2 separate regions of the Homo sapiens genome follow, and region 2 is linked to region 1. A link means that fine-mapping ties the variant in region 1 to the expression of a gene that starts in the linked region. Tissue or cell type: testis. Region 1 holds a variant in brackets; the other region holds the start of a gene. All regions are shown on one strand. Distances are between the middles of the regions.

The links. PIP is the estimated chance that this variant, and not a neighbour inherited with it, causes the effect.
Region 2: it holds the start of CPLX1, and the variant in region 1 is fine-mapped to the expression of CPLX1 in testis (GTEx, PIP 0.93).

What each region holds. Positions count from the first base shown.
Region 1 is chr4:734,431-742,430 of GRCh38, forward strand. It overlaps PCGF3 (polycomb group ring finger 3), which reads left to right. Exons shown (of 11, transcript NM_006315.7): 5 at 501-597; 6 at 3,036-3,091. It overlaps LOC107986246 (a long non-coding RNA gene), which reads left to right and starts at 4,997. Exons shown (of 2, transcript XR_001741543.2): 1 at 4,997-5,514; 2 at 6,277-7,309. The variant T/G (reference allele first, on the strand shown) is at 4,097.
Region 2 is chr4:820,654-829,737 of GRCh38, forward strand. CPLX1 (complexin 1) reads right to left here and starts at 5,476. Exons shown (of 4, transcript NM_006651.4): 1 at 5,393-5,476; 2 at 3,839-3,948. The coding sequence starts at 3,869. RefSeq lists a silencer at 5,446-5,495.

The sequences.
Region 1 (8,000 bases):
TTGTGTATTTCTCACTTTAGGAAATAAAATATTTGCCAATTTGATAGAATTTTGACTTTAACGTTAATCGTATTTTTAGATATTGGTTAGCATATTTTATGTTAGGTTATTTTCATTTGATTTTATCTAGTTGTACGTAGAAGATACTGTCATCTTTTAGGACAAAGTATTGTAAAATTATCTGTTTTAGCCCATGTTCTGATGACCCACAGCTCTGTCACCTTTGAGCATCATCTCCCCATTCTAAGTTTTTTTCCCACTTAATTCCTAACCCTGCCTCTTTGAGGAAGCCCATTGACGGGGCAATTAAAACCTTCTCATTGCTCCTGAGACCAGAACGGCAAGATGTTTCCTTTCAGAAGCTGAGAGCCACAAGGAGGACAGCAGTGAGCATCTGCACAGAAACGAGCTCAGAGACGCCCGTGTTCAGTGGAGCACGCCGATGGGGTGGGCGCCCTGGCTCTAGACGCTCTCCTAACACACCTGTGCTTTGATGACAGTCTGCAGGAGCTGCCTGGTGAAGTACCTGGAGGAGAACAACACCTGCCCCACCTGCAGGATTGTGATCCACCAGAGCCACCCCCTGCAGTACATCGGGTGAGTGTGGGCCTTCCCAGGCCACAGTACGTGGGGTGAGTGCCCCTGGGCGTCTCTGTGTGTGGGCCTTCCCAGGCCATTAGCGCTGTACTCCCATCCTGCCTTGGCAGCAGCCTCTCCTGACCAAGGGCACCCCAGGAGCTGCACACGAAGAACCTGGGTCCAGCGCTCACCAGGCCATCCTGCCAGGCCTGCCCAGGCTGTGCCTGCACATACATTTCCATCAATACTTAGGTAGGCCGGGCGCAGGGGCTCATGCCTATAATCCCAGCACTTTGGGAGGCCGACACAGGCAGATCACCTGAGGTCAGGAGTTTGAGACCAGCCTGACCAACGTGGAGAAACCCCATCTCTACTAAAAGTACAAAATTAGCTGGGTATGGTGGTGCATGCCTATAATCCCATCTACTCAGGAGGCTGAGGCAGGAGAATCACTTGAACCCAGGAGGCCGAGGTTGCAGTAAGCGGAGATTGCGCCGTTGCACTCCAGCCTGGCGACAGAGCGAGACTCTGTCTCAAAGAGAAAGAAAAAATACTTAGTCAAGTTAAATTGTTGGAGAGCCCTCAAGACCAAGTTGAATCTCATGAGTTTTACGCAGAATTTGCTGAAGTTAAATTTGATGTGAGCCGGCCCTTGGATACCCCTTTCACCTTTCTGCCATGGAGCAGATGGTCCTGGGGCCCTGGCCCTGCTGCCCCTGACACATGGCCAAGGTCTTTCTCCCTGCGCTGTGCTCTTCTGCCCAGGGTCACAGCGAGCCTGGACTCACCCCTGGGCCAGCCACCATTTCTGGAGAAGGCAACTCTTGCCTGGACGTCAGCAGGAGGCCAAGGGGCCAGCCAGGTGGAGCGTGTGGTTCTCACACAGATTTGGGAGGTCGTTCAGATTTGGGGGGTTGCTCCAAAGGAAGGGAAATGCTCCCCGTACCATGAGGGTAGTAGAGATAATTCTGAAGACACATTTTGAAGGAGGAAAGGCAGATGTGTTTGTTTTTCCCTTTTATTATTATTATTTTTCTTAATTTTATTTATTTTTCTTGAGATGGAGTCTTGCTCTGTCGCCAGGCTGGAGTGCAATGGCGCCATCTCAGCTCACCGCAACCTCCACCTCCCGGGTTCAAGTGATTCTCCTGCCTCAGCCTCCCGAGTAGCTGGAATTACAGGCGCATGTCACCACGCCCAGCTAATTTTTGTATTTTTAGTAGAGATAGGGTTTCACCATGTTGGCCAGGCTGGTTTCAAACTCCTGATCTCAGGTCATCTGCCCGCCTCAGTCTCCCCAAATGCTAGGATTACAGGTGTGAGCCACCACACCCGGCCCTCACAGACTTTTCTTTACATTATTTGGAAACATTCTAGAAAAGCCTCTGTTCATTGGAAATCCCACAAAGACCAGGAGACCCCAGGAAGCACTTGGTGGGAGGGGCAGGGACAGTGTCCCCTGAGCGCATAGGATGCAGGGAACCCGGGGTGTCCGCAGGGACGGTGTCCCCTGAGCGCATAGGATGCAGGGAACCTGGGGTGTCCGCAGGGACGGTGTCCCCTGAGCGCACAGGATGCAGGGAACCTGGGGTGTCCGCAGGGACGGTGTCCCCTGAGCACACAGGATGCAGGGAACCCGTGGTGTCCACAGGGACGGTGTCTCCTGAGCGCACAGGATGCAGGGAACCCGGGGTGTCCGCAGGGACGGTGTCCCCTGAGCGCACGGGACGCGGGGAACCCGGGGTGTCCGCAGGGACGGTGTCCCCTGAGCGCACGGGACGCGGGAAACCTGGGGTGTCTGCAGGGACAGTGTCGCGGGGAACCTGGGGTGTCTGCAGGGGCGGTGTCCCCTGAGCGCACGGGACGCGGGGAACCTGGGGTGTCTGCAGGGACGGTGTCCCCTGAGCGCACGGGACGCGGGGAACCTGGGGTGTCTGCAGGGACGGTGTCCCCTGAGCGCACGGGACGCGGGGAACCTGGGGTGTCTGCAGGGACGGTGTCCCCTGAGCGCACGGGACGCGGGGAACCTGGGGTGTCTGCAGGGACGGTGTCCCCTGAGCGCACGGGACGCGGGGAACCTGGGGTGTCTGCAGGGACGGTGTCCCCTGAGCGCACGGGACGCGGGGAACCTGGGGTGTCTGCAGGGACGGTGTCCCCTGAGCGCACGGGACGTGGGGAATCTGGGGTGTCCGGCAGACAGAAGCACGGGTTCCCAGAAGAGCCTTCTCTGTCATTATTTGAAATGTTTGAAGCAGCCAGAGCCCAAGTTAAATGACGCGTTAATTCAGCTCATACATGGCTTTTGGTGACACATTTTTTCATGTGTAAACTAGAAGTAAAATTCCAACAAAGCTCCAGACTGGTGATTCTGAACTTTGATATTGTTAAATGGAAAGTGTACAAGAATTATAGAATTAACATTTCCAGCTAACTCCACCTTTCTGTTCTTTTGCCAGTCATGACAGAACCATGCAAGATATTGTTTACAAATTGGTACCAGGCCTCCAAGAAGGTGAGTGTCTGACTGTCTTGCTGATCCCTGAGGTCCCAGCCTGGCCTCTGCAGCCCCTGCTCTCCTGGAAGTTTGGTTCTCGGATGGGAGGCCCCTTTCCTTTTGGCCGAATCACCGTCTTCTCATCCCTGCTCTCAGCCCAACTTCATCTCCTTGGCTGGTCTCTTCTTTCGTCTAAGATGCGTAGACATCTTTTTACCCCTTATGTGTATTCATTCAGCAAGTATGGATCGCATGTTTAGCACATGGGACCCCCAGGGCTCAACGCAGCTCCTGCCCCTCCCAGGACCCTGCCTTCTTCCTGGGCCCCACCTCCTGTCCCAGGCCTGCCTCCCCTCATCCCACAGCGCCAGCTTCCCCACAACAGAGGAGCAGCACGTTGGCATAGCGGGTAGCTGGTGTTTCTAGAAAAACTTCACCATAAAGTCAAATTTCATTTAGAATTAAAAGAAATACCAAGTAGTACAAATACCCTGAAAGTGGAAATCGGTTGCTTGGGGATCGCTCAGCTGAAAGCTCCCCAGCTCCCGACACTCTCACGGTGGTGGCCCTCCGCTGGCGACCGGCAAGGAGGCCAAGGAGGGGCCAGGTCAGCGCCAGGTGGGCTGTCCTGGTATTCTGCTCATCAGACCTTTCAAAGGCAGATAGAGAAGCTGAGAATTCACTTGGGCTGGTTCTCACTGTATCTCAGAAGAGGGTTGGAATTCAAAACACAGCTGAATATGCCAGATCCGTAGAAACCGTATCTCGCCTTTAATGCGTGACCCAGAGAATCATACTGTTAGAGGCTTCTTCCCTACTCACAGAGTTCATTCATGCAGGAAGAATTTAGATTTCCTGAGTAAACGTAGATAGAAACAATTAGTCTTTTAATATCTGAAAGTTTTTTAGTCCTGAGAAAAGGCAAAGGATACATTCGAGTTAAATGCTGACACCTTAAGAAACGTTTGCACCGAGTGTTTCAGACGCGTAGCAGTGGGCGGGATCGGGGCGGGACCCCAAGTT[T/G]TGTGACCCCCGCCAGTGCTGACACTTTAAGAAACGTTTGTGGCCGGGTGCAGTGGCTCACGCCTGTAATCCCAGCACTTTGGGAGGCCGAGGCGGGTGGATCATCAGGTCAAGAGTTTGAGACCAGCCAGACCAACATAGTGAAACCCTGTCTCTACCAAAAATACAAAAAAAAAAAAAAAATTAGTCGGGCGTGGTGTCAGGTGCCTGTAATCCCAGCTACTCAGCAGGCTGAGGCAGGAGAATCGCTTGAACCCGGGAGGCAGAGGTTGCAGTGAGCTGAGATCGCGCCACTGCACTCCAGGCTGGGCGACAGAGCAAGACTCCGTCTCAAAAAAATAAATAAATAAATAAAGTGTGCACTGGAGCGTTTCAAACGCTTAGCAGTGGGCGGGATCGGGGCAGGAACCTCGAGTTTTGTGACCACCACCCCCCGCCAGCAGTTTCTAGGCGTGGCCGTCCTTGCTGCACCTGCTGCTCCCTCAGCCTCACCCCGTGGCCTTTGATCTGTAAAGGCTGCAGTACGTATCCCCAAAAGATAAGGGTTCTTCTTAAAGCTCATAACCACAATACCTTGATAATGTTTAGGAAAATAGTAGAGATTCCTTAATACCAAATAGCCACTCAGTGCTGACATTTCTAGTTGTCTCATAAATGCGGTGCTTTTTGGTTGTTGTTTATTTCTTTATTTATTTTGAGACCTGGTCTCTGCTGCCCAGGCTGGAGTTCAGTGGTGCTATCACAGCTCACTGTAGCCTCAACCTCCCGGGCTCCAGTGATTCTCCCACCTCAGCCTGCCAGGTAGCTGGAACTACAGGCAAGCACCTCCATCCTGGCTAATTTTTTGTAGGGATAGGGTTTTGCTGTGTTGCCCAGGCTGGTCTTGAACTCCTGGGCTCAAGCAGTCCTCCTGCCTTGGCCTCCCAAAGTGCTGGGATTACAGGTGTGAGCCCCCACACCCAGCCTGTTTTTGTTTATTCCAATCAGGATCCAGAGAATACCACTGACTCACGGGCCTCCTTCTGGTTCCTGCCTCTGCCTTCCCATTGTCCTGGGTTGTCCTGCGGCAGTGGACCTGGGTGCGTTCCACCCGTGTTTTTGGGAAGCCCGCTTCTGGGCATCCATCAGGGCAGGTGTCGTCCATGTGCTGAGCCGGGTGGCACTGAGATCTGCATGCCACCTCCGTTCCATCGCTCGTCTCCACGTGTTAGTTGGAGTGTGCGTCCAGCCTGGAGCAGGTTGTATGTTCTCGTCCACCTCAGCACGCTCTTGTCCGGTGTGGACGCTGCCAACTCCACTCTACGTTGAAGAAGTCGAGAGGCAAGAGGTTCCGGAGTGCTCCAGATTGACACCCCCAGGGCACGGTGGCCCCGAGCCGCCTCCCTGACCAGCTCCTGTCTCTGGCCACCATATTTTCCGTTGAGTCAATATTCTTTTTCTTGTTGTTTCTCAAGCTTTCAGTCATTTGTGGCTCTTTAGCAGGAGGATTCTAACTTTAAAACTATTAGCAGTGCACCTATTTTCTTGATGGAGGCTACTTGCAATTTGTTTAGTTTTATCTGTGGTGCAGACAATTGCAAACCTCATTTCTCCGACCAGAGGCCTCTTCCTGAAACGCGCGTTAGCTGCGAGGATGCAGTGGTGAGGCGAGGTGTCAGCCCTTGAGGGTCCAGGTGTCTGTTTTGGAGGAGACGCCAACACGGTCCTGCCCCTCCCACCTGGACTCCGGGCAGGCCCTCAACGCTGTCCCCGCACCCCCACATGGTGGGGGCTTGCTGGAAGAGAGTTCCCTGCTAGATCAGAGGTGGGGTTAGGTTTTTAGTGGTTTGTTGTTTCTTTTTGTTTTTATAAATTATTTTAGAAACCTGTCTTCGTAGAGGCAACATGTTTAAAACATTTATCAAAGTGTCCATTCTCAGTCTCAGCCCACTCTGGGCTCTTTCACTCGGTGGGCGTGTCATGGTCTTTGGTGTGCCAGGCTCCTGTCCGTTCCTGGTGAGGGCTGTGGGGCTCACGCACTCACCAGTCCTCTTTCCATGGATCCTGAACATGCCTGTCACCTCTTGCTTTAGAAACGTGGGGGCCGGACACAGTGTCTCATGCCTGTAACCCTAGCACTGTGGGAGGCCGAGGCAGGAGGATCCCATGAGCTAAGAATGTTTCTTTACATTTTTAAATAGTTGGAAAAAATCAAAAGCAGCGTATTTTATGATGTGATAATTTAAGAATTGAAATTTCATGGTGCGTAGCCTGGTTGGAACCAGCCCCACTGGCTCAGCTGTGGTCGCCTTCACCCGTAAGCCCGTCCGTGGTGCAGCTGAGTGTGTGCCAGGAGTGTGCTGCCTGCCTGCCGGTGGCTTTGGGCAGCCCTCTGCACCGTGGCTGGAACTCATCGTCACTGCATTGGGACGTTTTCATGACGACGTCAGAACGAGGAAAGGAGAAAAGGGGACTTTCAGGGCTGCACTTCGAAGCCGCAGTGAACTCTGGATTATTTTGTTGTTGAACTGTCATTGTTGATGGCAAAGCACCGACTTTCTCATCCGTCATACTGTAGCTATGCTGAGAGCAAACAGCCGACGATGGAGTCACTGACTCAACACCAGCAATATCCCCACTCACAGGAAAGCAGTATTTAGACACCAGCAATATTCCCTACTCACAGGAAAGCAGTGTTTACAAAATGCTGAAAATTTAAAATGGAATGTCTCATCACAGCAGAATTTCTTCTCAGAAGTGAAAATGAAGATATGGCTGTAGTCAGAATAAGCTTCCAATTGGCTGATTCGTTAGCGTTATGCCAACAGTGAGCTCCTCAGATCAGGCTGGACTGCCGCAGCTCAAGAGCAATGTCCAGAGACAGTGAGCTCTTATTTATTTATTTATTCAATCATTTTTGAGACGGAGTTTTGCTCTTGTTGCCCAGGCTGAGTGCAGTGGCACGATCTCAGCTCACTGCAACCTCCGCCTCCCAGGTTCACACAGTTGTCCTGTCTCAGCCTCCTGAGTAGCTGGGATTACAGGCAGGTGCCACCATGCCTGGCTAATTTTTTGTATTTTTAGTAGAGACGGGGGTTTCACCATGTTGGCCAGGCTGGTCTCGAACTCCTGACCTCATGATCCGCCCGCCTCAGCCTCCCACAGTGCTGGGATGACAGGTGTGAGCCACCGCGCCCGGCCCCAATAAATGTTTCAGTGCCTGTATACACCTGACACTGAGTGCTGCTATTTTTAATCCTTCTTTATTCTTACAGGTGAAAATTAAAGAAATGGGAACTAGAGCCAAGGGTCAGGGTCTGAAGCTGAGTTGCTTTCCACTGTGTCCGTGGGGCTCTCTCCTTTGCACGGACCTATGTGGCCTGTTGTTCCCGTCACGGCTCTTCTGCAGACTGATGGGAACAGCCTCCTGCTGTCAGCCCCTGTCTTGCAGGCCTCCATTCCAGCTGCTGGGATGTGATTATTTAAGGGAAACATTTTCTTTCAAGCTGCTCTCAGATTCTCCAGGCTAATCTTTCAGCATTTCCCTTGTGAGGCTCCAGCACTCCATCCACCTGCGGCCGGCCCCACCTATCCCCTTGGCTCTCAGGGTCCCCTCCTCTCTCTGCCCAGGCTCTCGGGGTCCCCTCCTCTCTCTCTCCCCAGGCTCTCGGGGTCCCCTCCTCTCTCTGCCCAGGCTCTCAGGGTCCCCTCCTCTCTCCCCAGGCTCTCGGGGTCCCCTCCTCTCTCTGCCCAGGCTCACGGGGCATCCTCCTCTCTGTCCAAGCTCGTTGCCTCACGCGGGCATTGGTCCCTGCACGGTTGGTGTTTGTGAGGCAGCTGTGTAGGTTGGGGTATGCCCAGAGCGTTTCCCTGGCCTGGCCGAGCTCATGGTATGTAGGGAGGAAATCGTGGATAAAAAGTTTGG
Region 2 (9,084 bases), 87 kb after region 1:
TGGCTCAGGGCATCCCTGGCCTGGACTCCTGGCTCTGGTGGTCTCTGCTCACAGAGGGAGATTCTTTCCCAACTGCACCCCTCACCAGCCTCACGTGAACCCCCAAGGTGGACACCCCTCACCAGCCTCACGTGAACCCCCAAGGTGGACACCCCTCACCAGCCTCGCGTGAACCCCCAAGGTGGACACCGGTGGCCCCCACAAGCCCCTTGGGTTGTTCCTGCCGAGAACTCACAGCCCAGCCCCACGGGGGCGCGGAGGGGCTCTCCCACACGGTGGAACCCTGCACTTCCTGCCTGGGCCGTCCACGAGACACTTCTCGTCCACCCCGGCTTGGATGACCACAATCCTCCCCCTCACGCCAAACCCAGGACCGCACCCCTACGGTGTGTTCTCCCCAGATGTTCACCTGCTTCCCTCCCCATGTAGGACTGGACACAGAACCCAACAGCGTACCACTCTCCGGGGACAAGGACAGCTTCTCCACTGAACCCAGGCCAGGCTGTCGCCCCCCAGGTTGGGCCTGGCTGGGTGAGGGGCATTCACTGCCGGACACTGTCCATCGTGACTGAACCACCGGAGTCACTGGACCTGCCCGCTAGACCTCCCCACACGTGGCAGAGCCGAGCATGGGTGAGTCCTGCCTTGGGCTCTGTCGCTGGGGCAGTCAGAGGCTCTCCTGAGTGTCCGGCTGCCTCCCACTCTGCACCCCAGCCTCTCCGCACATGCATCCTCCAAGCCGTGTCCCACCTGAAGCCCCGGCCCGCCTGCCCCACACATTCCCGAGGACCTGAGCGTGTTTAAACAGGGCGTGTGTCACATCAAGGCGGAGGATGGGAGAGCGGGTGGCTGCTCGCTTCTGCCACATTTAGCCCCATGAGGGTCTGCAGTGACCACGGCACCCACACGTGCCACGTTCCTCCACGCTGTCCACAGAGCTCCCAGGCCGTGTTTGCAACTTTCTGGCCTGAGGAAACCAGTTTCTTTAAATTACTCCCTTGAGGACCCTGGATCCGGACCCACGTGTTGTGGGGGGAGGCCCGGCCCCAGTTCAAGGCCACTTTTGCTGCAGAGGAGCCTCCCGCTCCCCCACGAGCGATCACCCCGGCAGCCACCATGCTCCCTTCCCTTGGTGGCCCCAACAGGGGCCCCTCCTTGAGACCCAGCGTTGGGTCAGATGAGCAGGCCCTGGGCCACTCACTCCTCAGCAAGACTCACACCTGCGGCCCAGCCTGCCGCGGACAGCCCCCGAATGGTCTTGATTTAACCAGGCCTGTCCCCCTGCCCAGAGCCCTGGGCAGGTCCTCACCTCTTCCTCCTCTCTGCTGCACCCTCTGACGGGCGTGCACGTGTGCATGTGCCATGCTGCCTGCGCTCCTGGCCCTGACTCCTCTTAGCAGTTCATTTCTAATGCGTCTCTCTCCCCACTGTCTCTCCCTCTGTCTCTGTCTCTCCCTCTGTCTCTGTCTCTCCCTCTCACCACTGTCTCTCCCTCTGTTTCTGATTCTCCGTCTCTCCCCATCTCTGTCTCTCCCTCTGTCTCTGTCTCCATCTCTATCTCTCTAACTCTCTCTGTCTCTCTCTCTCCTTCTGCCTCCACCTCTCCCTCTGCCTCTCTCTGCCCTCTTCCTTTGTCTGTCTGTCTCTCTGTATCCCTCTGTCTCTCCCTCTGCTCCCATCTCTCCCTGTCTCTGTTTCTCCCTGTCTCTGTCTCCCTCTGTCTCTGTGTCTCCCTCTATCTCTGTCTCCGTCTCTCCCTCTTTCTCTCTCTCCCCTCTGCCTCTGTCTCTGACGTGCCGTCTCTGTTTTCACCTGTCTGTCCCTGTGCGTGCTGAATAACACATTCTTGTCTTTTTCTCTGTCTGTTTCTGGGCTGTCATTTTCTTTCTCCAGCTCCCCCTCCCCGACCCTGTTTCTGGGTTCGCCTTTCTTTGAACGGCTTCCTGGGTGCCTCCTGCTCCCTCTCCTGCCAGCTTCTTTGTGTCCGGGGCTTGGTCTGTTTCTCAATAGTTCTCTTGGGGTCTCTGCCAAGCTCTGTCGTGCTGTCTGGAGGTTCCCCCATTTCCCATCTCTGTCTTGCTCTGTCTCACTCACACGCATCCTGAGACAGCAACAATGAGGCTCGCCGGGTGAGGGACAGAGGCGCAGAGGCAGAAAACAAGGTCTCGACTGGAAGCCCCCCACCAGCTCCCGCCCTCAGCAGCTCTGGCTCCGAGCCTCAACGTGCTCTGCAAAGCCAATGTGGGGTGCTCTGGGAAGCACTCAGCGTGGAGCCCCCCCAGGGTCTGCTGGCTGCCCCCGCTCAGCTCCACCACGCTGAGCGACGCCTGCCCGGTTGCTGCTGCTGGAGAAACTTTGGGCTGCCATGAAACAAAAAGGGAATTCAGGCTGGTAATTACCCAGCTAATTTCAGTCATGTAGACAGCCAAATAAGATATTTCAGTTTCTTACAAGCCCACCTCAGGGCCTGAATTAGCCAACTAATTAATTATCCGTAACAGCCTGGGACTCCCTGGGTGGAACGTGCGTCCCTCCCAGCGCAGATGCAGGCTTGTCCCTGAATCACAGCCCGGTGACGCAGCCATTATAATTAGACTCAACCTGACTCTTACCCTTGACCACGAAATCTCAGGGATGTGGCCCCAGGACAGGCTCAATATCTTTTCATTTAATTTGTGTTGAGTGGAAGCACAGCCACCCTCCGGGAGACAGCCAGGCAGGCAGCTCCTGCCCTGGGGGAAGCGGCGCCTGCCCTCTGTACACCCTTGTCCCTGGCCCCTCGAACCCGGCCAGCTCCCCCACTGCAGAAATGCTCCCAGGAGGCCTGACTCACTCCAAGGTGTGAATGGCATCAGGTGAGGGTGCTCCCCCGTGGAGGCCACCCAAGCAAGACGTCTCTAGTGGTAGAATCGGGCACCGGCCACAGGTTCCCCTCACAGGAGTTCTGGGCACTGGTGCTGGGGGAACACAGGATGGACGGCTCTGGGCAAAACTGAGACTCGCCACGACAGCCCCGAGGCCTGAGTTGACCCATCAGCTCTGCCGGGACACGTCTGTACCAGCATGGCCCAGGCCCTGCCCACCTCCTGGTCTAGGAACCCAGCCACTGCTCTTGACATGGTCTCTGGCCACAATGACAGCCTTGGGTCAAGTGGGGACGAGGTTCCTTTCAAATAGCAGACAGCAGGTTGGAAGGGGGCCTGGCCCCACCCCAGTACACACAAAAAAGGCTGCACGTCCCGCCTGGGAGGCAGTCGAGACACACAAGCTGTTTCGGGCCTTTTCCTTCGCTCCCGTAACCAGCAAGCCCTGGTCCCTGAGGATGGCGCTGCCTCACCCAAGTGAAACCCACAGGGTCCTCGCCAGATGCACAGGCCAGCTCTGTCCCCACGCCTGTCCCTGAGGCTGCCACCTGCATCCTGCTCTCCCACCGCTTGGCTCTCCTCATCTGGAAGGAAGCCCCCTTGGGGGCTGCCCAGCCTGGCCAGTTAGAATTGGCCCTGTAAAGCCTACGCCAGAGTGTGCACCCTCCCCCAGGACGTGCATCAGCATGGTCCATGGGCTCTGCCCCGACCACAGCAGTGGGGCAGAGTGAGCTTACAGGGCAGCCCCTGTCCCGCCAGGAACACCAGTTCTGGCTCGGGGCCTCGAAAAGGGCCGGGCTGGGGGCGCTGCTGGGCACGGTCCTTGCTCCTCTGCCCCAGGCTCCTGTGCAGGGCTGCGTGGGTGGCCGTGTGGCTGCAGGGGCGCTGCTGCGGTGGGCCAGATGAGGAGCAGCTGCTGTGGTGGTCTCTCCATGTCCCCTCAGCCCCTCCCCACCCCACCTCCCGCTTCCTACCTCCTAGAGCCTGCTTCATCACAAACTCCATGGCGATTGCTCTGCTTCCACAGTGGCTCCTCCAGGGGTCAGAACTCACACGCAAGTATGGCCGGGAGCGAGTGTTCTTCCTGGGGGAGAGTGAAGTGGTCACAGGTCACCCTAAGCAGGCCCCTGCCTGGCCTTCCCCAGAGACCATCATTCCTTACCCGCAATACCTTGTGGGCTGGACCCTCCCCCACCTGGAGCGGCTGCCTGGGAAGTCCTTCGTGAGGGGCTTCTGTCCCCACACCCAAACCAGGACCCCAGAGGACCTGAAAATGGTCTCCCCAGCTCCTGGGGTGTCTGAAGCCTCTGCAGGGAGGGCTGCTGATGGCTTAGGGGGCATCGCTCAGAGGCGCCTGGCGCCAGGCTGCGGAAGCAGGGGCGGGGCCCAGGGGGCGTTTGAAGGTGACTGCTCCGCTCTGCAGCTCAGTGTCTGGAGCGGCGCCTCCGCGGTGGTCCCGAGCCCAGGGCCGTGGAGAAGGGTTGGGGGTGGGTCTTTGAGCGGGTACCCTTCAGGGCGGGCTCCTGTGGCTTCTGACCAGGGAGGCTTGGGTGACCCTATCCCTGACGGCACTGCAGTCAGTGTGCCCCCCACATGGCCCGCGTAGAAGAGATCGGGGTTGGGGAGAAACTTCAGGGGGCTCAGCCTTCAGGAAACACGTGGGGACGGGGACAGAGCACCCCCGCCCCGGGGGCGTGCATGGGGTGGGGTGGGGCGCTCTGGTCCCCTCTTGGGAAGCCGCTTTCTGAAATCACAGCAGCCGCAGTGAGCCCCCCGGTTTTGCGGGGTCTCTCCTATCGGGGAACCCCAGGTCCCTGGAGAGACACTGTTTGACGGTTCACCCCTCGCCCTCCGCAGAGGAAGGAGACTCGCGCGGGGACTGGGAGGGCGGCGGGCGGGGAGCGCCCCTCGGAGGCTTTGCCGCAGCGCCGATTCTCCTCCAAACTTCTCCCCTGGCTCCCGCGGCGCGGGGAAGGAGGGCACGGCCGGGCCCCGCAGACCCGCAGGGCTCCGGCCCCGCCGCACCCGCACCCCTCGGCTTTGCGGGCGGGCGAGCGGCCCTCAGGCGGGAGCGCGCCAGGAGAGGAAAGAAAGAGGGCGAGGGAGGAGAGGGGGAGCCTCGAGACAGGAAGAAGCGAGGAGGAGGCCGGGCGCGGGCCGGGACCGCGGGGGCCGCTTCAGCACCGCGGCAGTGGACAGCGCCCGCCCCGGACCCCGCGCGCGCGGAGCCCGGGAGAGAAACGGGGGCTGCGGGGAGAAGCCGGGGTCGGGGGGAGAAACGGGGGCCGGAGGGAGAGGCCGGAGCCGGGGGGAGAAGCCGGAGCCGGGGAGGAGAGACCCGGGGAGCGGAGGCCGGGGGGAGGAGCTGGGCGAAGCCGGGGCCGCGGGGAGAAGGGGGGCCGGGAAGGAGAAACCGGGGCCGGCGGGAGAAGCGGGGAGAAGCGGGGGCCGGGGAGGAGACGCCGGGGCCGGGAGGGGAGACCCGGGGAGCGGAGGCCGGGCGCGCGCTGCGCTCGGGGCGCGGTTACCTTCCCGGGGCGCGGGCGGTCAGCGGCGGGGCGCGCTCGGGCCGGCTGGGTCCATGTGGCGCCCGGTGAGCTGCGGCGGCGGCTGAAGGGCACCGCGAGGAGGGCGCGTCACTCGCAGGCGCTCCCCGCCCCCCGCCCGCGTCCGAGCGTGACGAGCACGGGGAGGGGAGCGCCGAGGGGCGGGGCCGCGGGCGCCGGGCGGGGGCGGGGGTGGACCCGGGGGCGGGGGCGGAGGCGGACCCGGGGGCGGGGGGCGGGGGGTGGACCCGGGGCGGGGGCGGGGGGTGGACCCGGGGGCGGGGGCGGGGGGCGGGGGCGGGGGGCGGACCCGGGGCGGGGGCGGGGGGTGGACCCGGGGCGGGGGCGGGGGTGGACCCGGGGGCGGGGGCGGGGGGCGGGGGCGGGGGCGGGGGGTGGACCCGGGGCGGGGGCGGGGGTGGACCCGGGGGCGGGGGCGGGGGTGGACCCGAGTGACGCGCCCCCGCCTCCCTCCAACCCGGCCCGGGCTCGACCTTCCCCCGGCGGGCGCCTGCGACCCCCGCCCGCCCCTGATCTGGGCGCCCCCGGCTCTGCCCCCCCGCCCCCAGCCCGACGGTGCGGGCCTGCTCCCTACAGGGTCCGCGCGGGGCCGGTGGGTGCAAAACCCTCGGGCGGAGAAGTCGCTGCCTCCCGAGCGGAGGGGCCAGGGGTTGGGAGTCGCTGCCGCCCCCATTCTCCGGTGACCGTGTCCCTGAGCGCCGCCCGCCGCCCCGACCCCTCTGCCCCGACCTCCCCGTATCGCAGGGCGGGAGAAGGGGGCCCCCAGACCCCTGAAAACCCACGCAAGCCCCTCGCAGCCAGAGACCCGCAGGCCGGCCCGGGCTCACTTTCGGTGTAACGGAGTCGCTGTTTCCTTTACCGGGACGAAGGCCAGAGACCCCACCGCTCCCTCCCCTGGCCCCCGGGATTTCCTCTGCAGCGGACGCGGCACTGCGGGAGAGCGGGGTCGCCGCAAGGTCGGCCCTGCGGTTCGCGCTGTGCAGTGTCGGGAGCCAGGCGGCGGGAGGGATGGGGCGCACCGCGACCCTAGAGCTGCCCTGTGCTCCTGGCGGGGTGGGGGTGGGGAGGGGGGAGGGGGGCCGCTGCCGGTGGCCGCCGCACTAACTTGTCACTGTCCCCTCCCTGCTGAGTCCTGGGGACTCCCCTGGCGCAGGGAAGATGCGGCCCCTCCCCCGCCCTCAGCCCCATCCCCTCCGGTGCCCCGTGTTTAGCCTGAGCTCAGGAGGACTCAGAGGCCTGGACTCCCAGCCTTGGCCCCAGCGCCTCTGCCCCCGTCCCCACTCTTCTGCTGACTTGGCAGGGGACCCTTCGCAGAGGAAGGGAGCGCTGGGGGAGAGGGAAGGGTGAAGGCACCAGGGCCAAGCCCATGGGGGCTCCCTGAGACAGCCATGAGGGTCCCGTGGGCCTGGGGGTTCACAGGCAACCTCCCAGAGGGGGACCCATGCCCTAGGATTGGGGTCTCTTCAGCCTCCCTGGCTGGAAGCCATGGGCACCCCCAGCACCGTCCCTTCCTCTCTCCCGGGATCTGAGCCAAGTGGGCTCAGAACGTTGGGCCCAGGGACAGGAGGCAGGACACATGCCTGGGGGCCCGGCCTGAGCCCCAGCCTGCTCTGCTCCATCTGCTCCTCTAGTCTCCTCAGGACCTGGGAGGGGACAGCAAGGGTGAGATGTTCGGGTCCAAGAAAGAGGTCACTTCTCGGCCCTGGTGCTTTCTCTCTCCATCCCTAACTGGGTGGATAACCCAACAGCTAACCCGGACAGTAACCCCAGAGAGGACCCCAGGGGTGACCCCCTGAGCCCAGAGCCAGGCTCATGACTGACCCTGCCACCTCCACAAGCTGCATGCAAGGGATATGCTGGTGCCTTTGGGACAGTCTGCACAGGAGTGCAGGGAGGTGCCCGTTCTTCCGAGCAGAAGCACTGGACTCCTAGGCTGACCCCTCCCCGTTCTACAACCCAGGCCAGCCTGAGCTCCAAGCACACCTGGAGCTGGGGCCTGGGGCACAGAGGACAGAGACCCTCTGCCAGCCCTCACGTTCTGCCCTGTCTTCCTCTGCCTCTCTCTCTGTCTCTTTCTCCGTCGCTGTATCTCTCTGTCACTGTGTCTTTCTGCCCGTCTCTCTGTCTCTATCTTTCTGTCTCTGTCTTTCTCTGTCACTGTATCTGTCTCTGTGTCTTTTTGTCTCTCTGTCTCTTTCTATCTCTGTCTCTGTCTTTCTGTCTTTTCTTTCTCTGTCGCTGTATCTCTCTGTCTCTGTGTCTGTCTCTGTCTCTCTGTGTCCGTCTCTCTCTGTCTCTGCCTGTCCCTGTTGTTACTTGTTACATCCAGCCACACATGCAGTGACTGCTTCTCAGCTCTCACACTTGTCTAGGCCCTAACCTGGGGGTGGGGGGGCCCAGCCACAACTTGGGGGAAATAGACAAGGTTGGTGACAGCCCCAGGTCAGAGTGACAAGTGGCCTAGGGAAGGGAAAGTGGGCATCTGCTGGAGGAGTTGAGGGTGGTGCCCACTCAGGGTGTGTGAGCTGGGCCAGGGGAAGGGAAAGTGGGCATCTGCTGGAGGGCTTCAGGGTGGTGCCCACTCAGGGTGTGTGAGCCAGGCCAGGGCTGCCCAGCTGGGATGGGAGTCACAGGCTGCTGGCCAGGAGCCACCCAGGCTCCGTTCCAGTGGCAGAAGGTGGTGACGCGGCAAAAGGCCTCTGCCAACCCCCACGGGCCACTTGGCCACACCAGGGCAGGTGCGGTTGGCCCTTCGAGTGCCCAGAGGAGGCCCTGAGCCCTGGAGAAGAAGCCCCGCAGACCTCCAGCCGGCTGGAAAGGGGCAGGAGCTGAGTGAGAAAGGGGCCAGCAGGTTGAAGGCCAGGTTGAAGATCCAGGCAGGGAAAACATTTTGCAGGCCGGGGAAGAGTTGGAGGCCACCCCGTCCAGGCGGATGTTGGGAGAAGGAGGAGGTGGGGTGTGGAGCAAGTCCGGGAGGAGCAGGATGGAGCTCCAACGAGGGCTCCCCCAGAGGTCAGCTTGGAGAAGTGTGAGTGCTTGGCTGGGCCGAGCCCTGGCTGTGGGGCCTGTGCCAGCCGGTTGGACATGGATGGTACCCCCGGCCCAGCCAGCCCTCTGCTCCTCAGATGCTCCATCCCCAGCCCCAGTGAGGCCAGGGACCCCAGGAGCACAAAGCAGGACTGTGTGAGGACCATGTGGCACTGGGTTTGAGACCCTGCGGGGTCACTCCAGACAGCAGGGAAAGGAGGCAGCTGCCCTGCTGCAACCTCCAGCTCTAGCCTCTCTGGAAGCCCCTGCCAAGGCCTCCACTGCCACCCTGCTCCCATCTTCTGGGTCCCATCTGCCCATAGCCCTCCTGGGTGCCAGGCATCCTCCTTGCCTTGGGCCAGGAAAGGGTCTGGGAAGCACTGTCAGGGTTTCCTGGGGTTGGCCTTCAGTCCTGGCGTGGGGTGTGGCCAGGGGGCCATGTCCCCCATGGGCCCAGCAGGAGGGCAGCGCTCTGCCACACCGCATGTGTGGATCCGGCCCACAGCACCCACCCAGAACCTTCAAACACAAACTTAATAGTTACATGTGCTGAGTGATTCAGTCTGAGTGCCGACACCATCCACGCTGTCATTTTCCTGCTGGATTTTGATATTCCAAAAGTAACA